Regions from separate parts of the Homo sapiens genome. Here region 2 is linked to region 1. The links come from fine-mapping of genetic effects on gene expression. Tissue or cell type: monocytes. Region 1 holds a variant in brackets; the other region holds the start of a gene. All regions are shown on one strand. Distances are between the middles of the regions.

What was found. PIP is the estimated chance that this variant, and not a neighbour inherited with it, causes the effect.
Region 2: it holds the start of RABIF, and the variant in region 1 is fine-mapped to the expression of RABIF in monocytes (Quach 2016, PIP 0.95).

Annotation. Positions count from the first base shown.
Region 1 is chr1:202,615,008-202,619,457 of GRCh38, reverse strand. The region is part of intron 1 of SYT2 (synaptotagmin 2); the gene reads left to right. Among named protein-coding and RNA genes, the nearest start is that of SYT2, 93 kb to the left of the region's middle. The variant G/A (reference allele first, on the strand shown) is at 2,291.
Region 2 is chr1:202,887,589-202,891,588 of GRCh38, reverse strand. RABIF (RAB interacting factor) reads left to right here and starts at 2,440. Exons shown (of 2, transcript NM_002871.5): 1 at 2,440-2,616. The coding sequence starts at 2,491. It overlaps KLHL12 (kelch like family member 12), which reads left to right. Exons shown (of 12, transcript NM_021633.4): 12 at 1-469. RefSeq lists an enhancer at 2,405-2,674 and a silencer at 2,745-3,034.

The DNA of each region.
Region 1 (4,450 bases):
CCTTGTTGGGGCCTCCCAGACCCCTACCTCTTCAGACCTTGACCTGTGGCCCAGCAGGCTGGGAGCAGGCATCTCTCCCCACCCCCAGCCTCCCTCTCCGGGCAGCTGCAGCCTTCACCTAATGGCGCCATTTCATGCTTTCCTGCTCGGGTGATTCTGACCAGACAGAGGAGTTCACTCTGTCCTGGGAGCCCTGGCACCCTGATCCATTTATCATCCTCAAGTCTTCCAGCTGGCTGCTCTCCCCGGGACTGCAGCTCCCAGCCATGCGGGAGGCGAGGCAGCTGTGAGTTCCCGATAATTTGGCTCTCCCTCACACCGTTCTCGCCGCCATTCCTCCCCAGCCATAGGAGCCCTGCCTCCTAGAGTGGGGGAAATAGTCCTGGAGGCGGAGGAGGCTGCTGGGCTGTGGAAGGAAGCACTGGACTAGGGGTCCAGGGATTTAGATTCTTCCTCCACCAAATGCCTGTGCGACCTTGGACAACTGGCTTCACTTCTCCAGGCCTCCAGGAGTCTTGGGTGGCATGCAGGGTATGAAAGGGCTCCTGCTGTTTTCCTTCTTTTTACATTTTTTTTCTCTGACTCTAGAAGGGACAGCAGAGCCAGGTGACAGGGGGTCACATCAGAAGGAGAGTCAGCTGAGGGAATCTTGGTCTCTCAGCTACTGGCGTGTCTCCCAGGGAAAATGGAAATGCAACCGAAGGGCAGCCTTGGAAAAATAAGCAGTGGTTCTCTACATGCTGAGCAGATGTGGGCTGTGGGAAGGACATGCGGTCTCTACCCATGCAACATCTCATTTAATCCCAGCCTCAACTCGAGGGTTTAGGAATAAAAGCTGCATTCAAATAGTTAAGAAGTCTGACACTCAGAGAGGTGAAAGAAACCACCCGAGGTGAAATGACTCATAAGGGGGTGCGTCTGACTCTCTATGGTCCCAGGCCTGCTGCAAGAGGAGAGGAAGGGTGGGCAGTTCCCAAAGCTGTGTGCAATGCCCCCACTTCCCATGCCAGCTTTGGGGTCTCGCTGTACACACACACACACACACACACACACACACTCACACCAGACCTTGGTTCCTTCCCAATCTATGCTTGGGTGGGTGTCCCTGGATATAGCCTGATGACAACTGAGTCTTAACATGGTTTGTGGAAAGAGCCCTGGGCCCAGAGCCAGCCTGTACTGCACGGGGGGACCCTGGGAAGGCCACTTCCCCACAGAATTCAGTGTCTTCTGTGAAATGACATAATGTGACCCAATCTCAAAGTCTGTCCTGCTTGATCATTTACAGACCCACATATTTATTGAATGTGGGCAGATTACTTGAGGTCAGGAGTTCGAGACCAGCCTGGCCAACATGGTGAAACCCCGTCTCTACAAAACTACAACAAATTAGCCAGGCGTGTGGTGGGCACCTGTAATCCCAGCTACTTGGGAGACTGAGGCAGGAGAATTGCTTGAACCTGGGAGGCAGAGGTTGCAGTGAGCCAAGATCGTGCCACTGCACTCCAGCCTGGCAGACAGCGAGACTCCATCTCAACAACAACAACAACAAAAAATGCGTAAACAAGTGAGCGTCCCAACAAAATTTTATTTACAAAAATTAGGTGGGGGACTGGATTTAGCCCCTGGACTGCCGTTGGCCAATGCCTGCACTAGAGCAACAGCAGTGAGTAAGACCAATGAGGTGGCTGCTTATACAGTCACAAGCTGCATGAGTACCATGGGGATGAGAATGGAGAGCTGGGAAAGCAGGTGGTTGAGGCCTTGATGCGGGGGTAGGGGAGGAGGGAGCCATGGGTGTGGGGAGGAAGGCGTTCTTGGAAGTACTGTTTGAGCTGAGAAAGATGTGTAGACTGTATTAGTCTGATCTTGCACTGCTATAAAGAAAAACCTAAGACTGGGCAATTTATAAAGAAAAGAGGTTTAATTGGCTCGAAGTTCCACAGGCTGTACAGAAAGCATGATGCTGGCATCTGCTCGGCTTCTGGAGAGGCCTCAGGAAACTTACAATCATGGGGGGAGGTGAAGAGGGAGCCAGCACTTCACATGGCCAGAGCAGGAGGAAGAGGCGAGGGAGTGGGGGTTGGGGGGTGCTACACACTTTTAAATGACCAGTCTCATGAGAACTCACTATCACTAGATCTGACCCTGTGATCCAATCACCTCTCACCAGGCCCCACCTCCAACATCAGGGATTACAATTTGACATGAGATTTGGGCAGGGACACAGATCCAAACTGTATCATAGGCTTTGGCTCCTTGAAGGGGGCACAGCATATACAAAGGCCCC[G/A]AAGAGGGTAATACAGTGTATTAGGGGAAACAAAAGAAGGAGTGTAGGCTGGTGTTAGCAACCCAGGGAGGGAAAGCTGAGGTGCTGCTGGATGGAGAGCATGAGGGGCTGTAGGCCACGCTAGGGCTTTCGGCCTGTCTCCCTGGGATGGCTTTTCATTTTTGGCGACATGACTGGCTTTGCATTTTATGAAGATTGCCTTGGTGGCAAATACGGAACTGACTGGAGGCGAGCAAGAGGAGACCCAGAAGATCAGGCAGCTATGTCGGGGGCCAGTTGACCTGTGGGCCTGGAGCTCGGAAGTGGCTTGACTCTGACAGAAGAGGATGGCACTGATGCCTGGGTGCAGAAGGAACCACGCAGGGAGACACCATGGCTGAGAAGGGAAGGACCTCAAGTGCAAGCCTGAGGCAACCGAAGGAGGAGTAGTCACAGTTATGACAAAAGCAGGCAGCGGCCAGCTGACCACAGCTCAGGGGTCCAGCTCAAGGAAAATGAAAATGCGCCCTGGGTTTAGTGACCTTGTGTTCATCATCCATGACTTTACAAAGAGCTACTTCAGCAGAGGGATGGGGCAGAAGCCACAATGGAGGGGCTGACGAGTGAGGTGGACGTGACGAAATGGGGACCATGTGTGCGTGTGTGTGCACGTGTGTATATGTGTGTGCATATGTGTATGTGTGTGCAAGTGTGTGTGCGTGGTCACGAAGGGGAGAACAAGGCAGCAGGTGGGGCTCATTTTTGGTGGGTGATGTGATAAACTGGACTGGTCCAGCCTCAGCTGAGGGAAGGGGGAAATGTTAGGCACAAGAAAGGGCAGGGATGGCAAAGACTTCCTGAGAAGTCAGGAGGGATCCTGCGCAGGAACGGGAACTGGCTTAACCAGAGGAAAAGCCCTCAACTCACAAGGGGTCAGGAGGAAAGGTCTGTGGTTTGACCCAAGGTTGGGACATTTTGAGAGATTTCTCGCTTCTGCTTTTCTTTAAAATAACAGCAAAGAGAGAGGAGGGGTGTGAGGGAGCCACAGGCCTGCGGAAACTGGAGGAGGAGGCGAAGCTGGTGGGGAGGCGTTTCCTGCAGTTTCTGTGCAGTGCAGAGGGCCTGGGTGATCCTGGGGATTGATGGGATACAGGCTGCCCTTGTACTGTGGGGGGATTTTCACCAGGGGGCTCAGCAGTCGGGGGTAGCCATGGAGAAGGAGAAAGCTGTCAGTGGGATTTCTCCAGGGCTGGCGCTTTGCCAGGTGAATACCACAGAAATGCCAAGGGAGTGTGGGGAATTGCGAACAAGTTGTAGGCACCACGGACCATGGTGGGAAAAGAAGACTAGAGGGGCTGATGGTGGCCCAGGGAGGTCAGGGAGACTTCTCCAGGAAGAGCATTCTAGGCTGAGGGAGAGTAAGTGCCAAGACTGTGGGATGGGGGTCTGTTTGGTGGGTTTGTGGCTGGTGGCAAGAGGCCAGCATGGCAGGAACTGCGTGACTGAGAGCAAGGACAGGAAATGCCTGTGGGAGCCAGCCAGGGGCCAGGCCAGGCAGGGATCTTATTCTAAATGTGACAAGAAGCCACAGGAGGGTTTTAAATAGATCAGTCTGGCTGCAGTGTGGAGATCAGGCTGAGTGGAGGGGAGTGGAAGCTTCCAGATAGGAGGCTACTGTGGTACTCCAGCTGGAGGGTGGAAAGTGGCCAGATTTGGAAGGCATTGTGGGTGGTTGATGAGTTTGCAGACACCTGGGATGTGGGGGGGTGACCCCACATGGATGGGAAGGATGACCCCAAGGCTTCTGGTCTCAGCACCTGGTGCCATGTACTGGGTGCATAACTGAGAGACGGGCCCTGAATCCACCCCATCCACTCTCTGGGCCCACTGCCCATGCCTGCCTTTGACATGAGCCTCCTCAGGCATCTTCTATTCCCTTGCTGTCTGGGCAGCTATGGCCTCCTGGTTTTGTTGGAGTCTGGAAAAGCTTCCAATCTGCTGCTGCTGCTTCATGGACTCCCCACATTCCCTCTCTGCAGCTCTAAGTCATTTTCCTCTGGTGGATTCCCCGGGAATGCCGTCTGTCTTTCATAAGAGCTCGGGGATGACATTTGTTATTGGCTGTTTTCAACTCTTTCCCCGCTTTCCTCTGGAGTTATGCTCCACCCTAGTCTTTTTACT
Region 2 (4,000 bases), 270 kb before region 1:
CACTATTACACTTCCACACTATTTATTTGGGGATGGGCTGGGAGTGACAGTAGCCTAGTAGTTCAGCTACCTGATTACTGCCCCATTCTTTTAGAAGCACATGTCTGCCAAGGAGTGGTTTGTACTGCTGTGTTTGGTACATCTAGTCTTTTTTCTGCTATAAGTTTTCCTTACCTGTCCTTTAGTGTAGATTTTATTCATCACAGGACAGAATAATCAAGGACAACCAAAATCCTTTTGTTAGTTTCAGTACCTCAGCTATCAACATTTCTGAGCTACCATTCAATGTTCCTCTGTGTCATGGAGTGAAATTCTTGTTTTGTGGGTATTAGGAGTGTGGGAATGTGATAACCTAAACAACCTTTGCTCTGAAATTCCATTTTTCCCTCTTTCCCTGAGTTGTATTGACCTACAGAGTTAATTTCCTTTGTATTTTTTTAAGAAAATATTAAAAATCAACGGTCTCAAATGCCGAGAGTTTGTGGCTAACCAACATTGCCTTTAGTAGATATTTGGGAGGGAAAGATGTAGGGATCAGCCGTAGCTCCTGTCTCTTCAAGCTGTTCATCTTGTGTGTTTGCCAACTAGTTCCGCTATTTCTATGTTAGACACAGGTAAGAGGTAGCCACTTTACACTTTGGAGATTCTCATCAGTAAAATATTTACCTGATTTGCCATATTCATTAGCCCCTCTGACGCTTGGAGTTACTTGAAAAAGGAATACAGAAAAGATCTTGAATTCACTTAGCACGCGCTTGAATTTCAGGGTTTCAGTCACACCAGTCCTTTTTTCCATTTGCTTTGAATTGTGGCATGTGATATAAACAGCTATGCGGAAGGCCTGCAAAACTGAAACAGTCCTGATGCTTCCAGAGCAAAAGGAAGGAGGAGCCACATGAGGAAGTTATTTTCCTTAAAAGATGCCTACCAACTTTGGCAGATGGATTGTGCATGCTAATTAAACCAAAGCCTATAAAACGTGACTTTTCCTATCTCAGGAAGAGATCCAGGGGAGGGTGAAGGACTGATGGCTCCTATGCTGTCTTCAGTGCTGACTAATGAGTTTCAGACCAACTTCACAAATAGTTCATACACTGAAGCCACAATGGTATGTTCTACAGAAAAATCAACACGTAAAACAGCTCCTTTTTCACTCTTCACAATCGTACACACTTTCATGTGCTCACATACATACACAGAGATACCCCTAATTTGGTGGTTCATCTTATTTTTTTAAGCTCCCATAACTGGCAACCAGCTACTTAGTTATCTAACCTGGGAAAACCAGCAGTTGCTTTGTGTCACCCCCATCACAATACAGACATCCAGCTAGTTTCTAAGTTCTGTACAATTTTAATTGTTTCAAGTCCATTCCCATATCTTTGTTCCCTCTGCTAGCTTCAGGGCCTTTCTGAGCTAGACTGATGAGGTAATAGCTACCTGATACCTTACCTCTACTCTTTTTCCTCTCTTCAATCTAGCCCCTCTATTTATTCATAGGTTATCTTTCTGAAGCACAGATAGGATCATTACAGTGCTTAACATACAGCAGACAGTAAATATCGAACAGTTATTTCTGGCCTAAAATTCCACAGATTCCCATTGTTCATGTTATTAATGTTAAATTCCTTAGCATGACATTAAAGCCATGGAGCTCTGGGCCCACTCTGCCTTACCTACCTCTACTACCACTTCTCCCCACGTGTAATGTGGGTCAGCCACAGTGGTCTACTAACCATTCCTAAATTTGTTCTCACCCTTGTTCATATATAATACTGTTCTGTCTGAAATAATCTTGCTTTCCTGACAATCCTAGTTAATTAAGAGCAGTGGCTTTAGAGTTGTGCTGCAACCTTTCTGATCTTTACCTTTCTCATTTTGTGCACAAGCGTGCCGACCCCGTAAGGAAACTGATGATTTAGTAAGTTTCTAAAGGCGCTTTGACACATTTTGCCGCATAGTAAATGGTCACAATGAGTAGAAGAGACCAGCAATTAAAGTTTCCACGCATCTTTTTCCAATACCGAAAAGATACATGCCCCTCTAAGTAGTTTCCTATAGAAGAAGCTAATGTGGCTAAAACTTGATGGGAAGTCCGACCCAGATTCCCTTCATATTGCCCCCAATAATGTCCCCATTTATTCAGGAGACTAAATTCAGATCCCAGAAAACTAAACAGTAAGGTCAACCTAATGATTTGTCTAGGTTTTAAGTGAAGCCCAGTGGCCAGGTGGGTATGGAGATGTGTCACTGGTGCCAAGAAGTGTCCCTGTCACAAAGCCTGCCGACACCTAGCCACTTAGGTTAGGCAATGAATGAAGGCGCTTGCGCAGTAGAGTCCAGAGCGGGGAAGCGGGCGCCTGCGCAGAGACATAGTGACCGTCCGCTCGCCGCCCCGCCTCTGCCAAGCCGCGCCAGCGCAGTGAATAACGAGCCAGCAGAGACAGCGTCTGCGCAGCCGTGGCTGAGGAGCCTGTGGCGGCAGCGGCGATGGAACCAGCGGAGCAGCCGAGCGAGTTAGTGTCAGCCGAGGGCCGAAACCGGAAGGCGGTGCTGTGCCAGCGTTGCGGCTCCCGGGTGCTGCAGCCAGGGACCGCTCTCTTCTCTCGCCGACAGGTAGGGAGGCAGGTTGGAGGCCGTTTACACCCACAGTCTCCCCCGACGAGCCGCCGCAGTCAGAATCTGAACCCCGGCTCTTCAATTTCCGGCAACCGCGCCCTCCTCGCGCGGCCTTAAGCCCCGCCCCTCGGGCCTCAGCTCGGCGAGGCTCCGCCCCTGGGGCCGCTGAAGGCTAGGGAGGGAACCGGGTCCCGCCCCGGCATCTTTTGCCGCGGGAACCCTTCCCTGGGCCACCCGGCCCAGCCAGCCCGGCCCTCTGCCCCCGGGGGGGCTTCGAGCGCGGGCCGTGCGCCCCGCCGCCGTCCAAGGCCGGTGCTCCGCGGGCGCGTGGAAGGGAGGCGCCCCATTCCGGCTCTCGGAGCTCCCGCCAGCTTGCAGGACCCGGCAGGTGCCTCTCGGCCGCCGCTCACCGCGGGTGTTGCTGGGTTCCTTTCCCACTTTAGACCTCACCCGCCAGTCCTGAATTCACCGTCTCATTTATGACGGGCACCTATCTGCTCCACAGAGGATCCCCAGGAACAACTGGTGTTGGGGACGCGGCAAAATAACCCTGGTAACCTACCCACTTTACCGAGGCACTGGAAGCCTGTGGTTTTCCAGATGAATCATATTTCAAGTGCAGTAGATCCCTGACGTCCTGGAAGTAAATTTCGAAGAAAAACTTTTTTTTTCCCTTCAGTTTAGGGATTTTAATACCCTTCCTACCACCATCATCGCAAGTGAGAAAGTTGAAAAAAAAATTTATTTCGGTAAACTGTGTTGAAGTGCAAATATAATGTCATTTCAACCATAGACACATCCTATCATTCAAAATTATTTCTAAAAATATGCAGATCATTTTATTATTTCACGTGCTTGAACAGATGGTGAAGTGTAATGTCTAGTAGAAGAGCAAGAGGTACCCATTCGTCCAAAACAGCCTTTCATCAAAGGAGGAAAAAAGGGAATCTGTGTCTGTTGTTTTGTAGGTATTTTGATGACTTTTGATCTAGAGATTGGTGGAGGTCCCGGGGTTCTTTTAAGACTTCAAGGTTTAGGAGTAGAGTTCTCAATTAATTTTACGAAGTTAGTGGCATTATGGAGTCAGTGGAAAGAACATGGATCTTGGAATTGAAACATACATGGAATTGAGTCCTGACTATCATTCATTAACATTAAAACAGTTAGGCTGGGCGCGGTGGCTCATGCCTGTAATCCCAGCACTTTGGGAGGCCGAGGCGGGCGGAACACCTGAGGTCAGGAGTGTGAGACCAGCCTGGCCAACATGGCAAAACCCCATCTCTACTAAAAAAAAAAATACAAAAATTAGTTGGGGGTGGTGGCACAAGCCTGTAATCCCAGCTACTCGGGAGGCTGAGGCAGGAGAATCGCTTGAACCTGG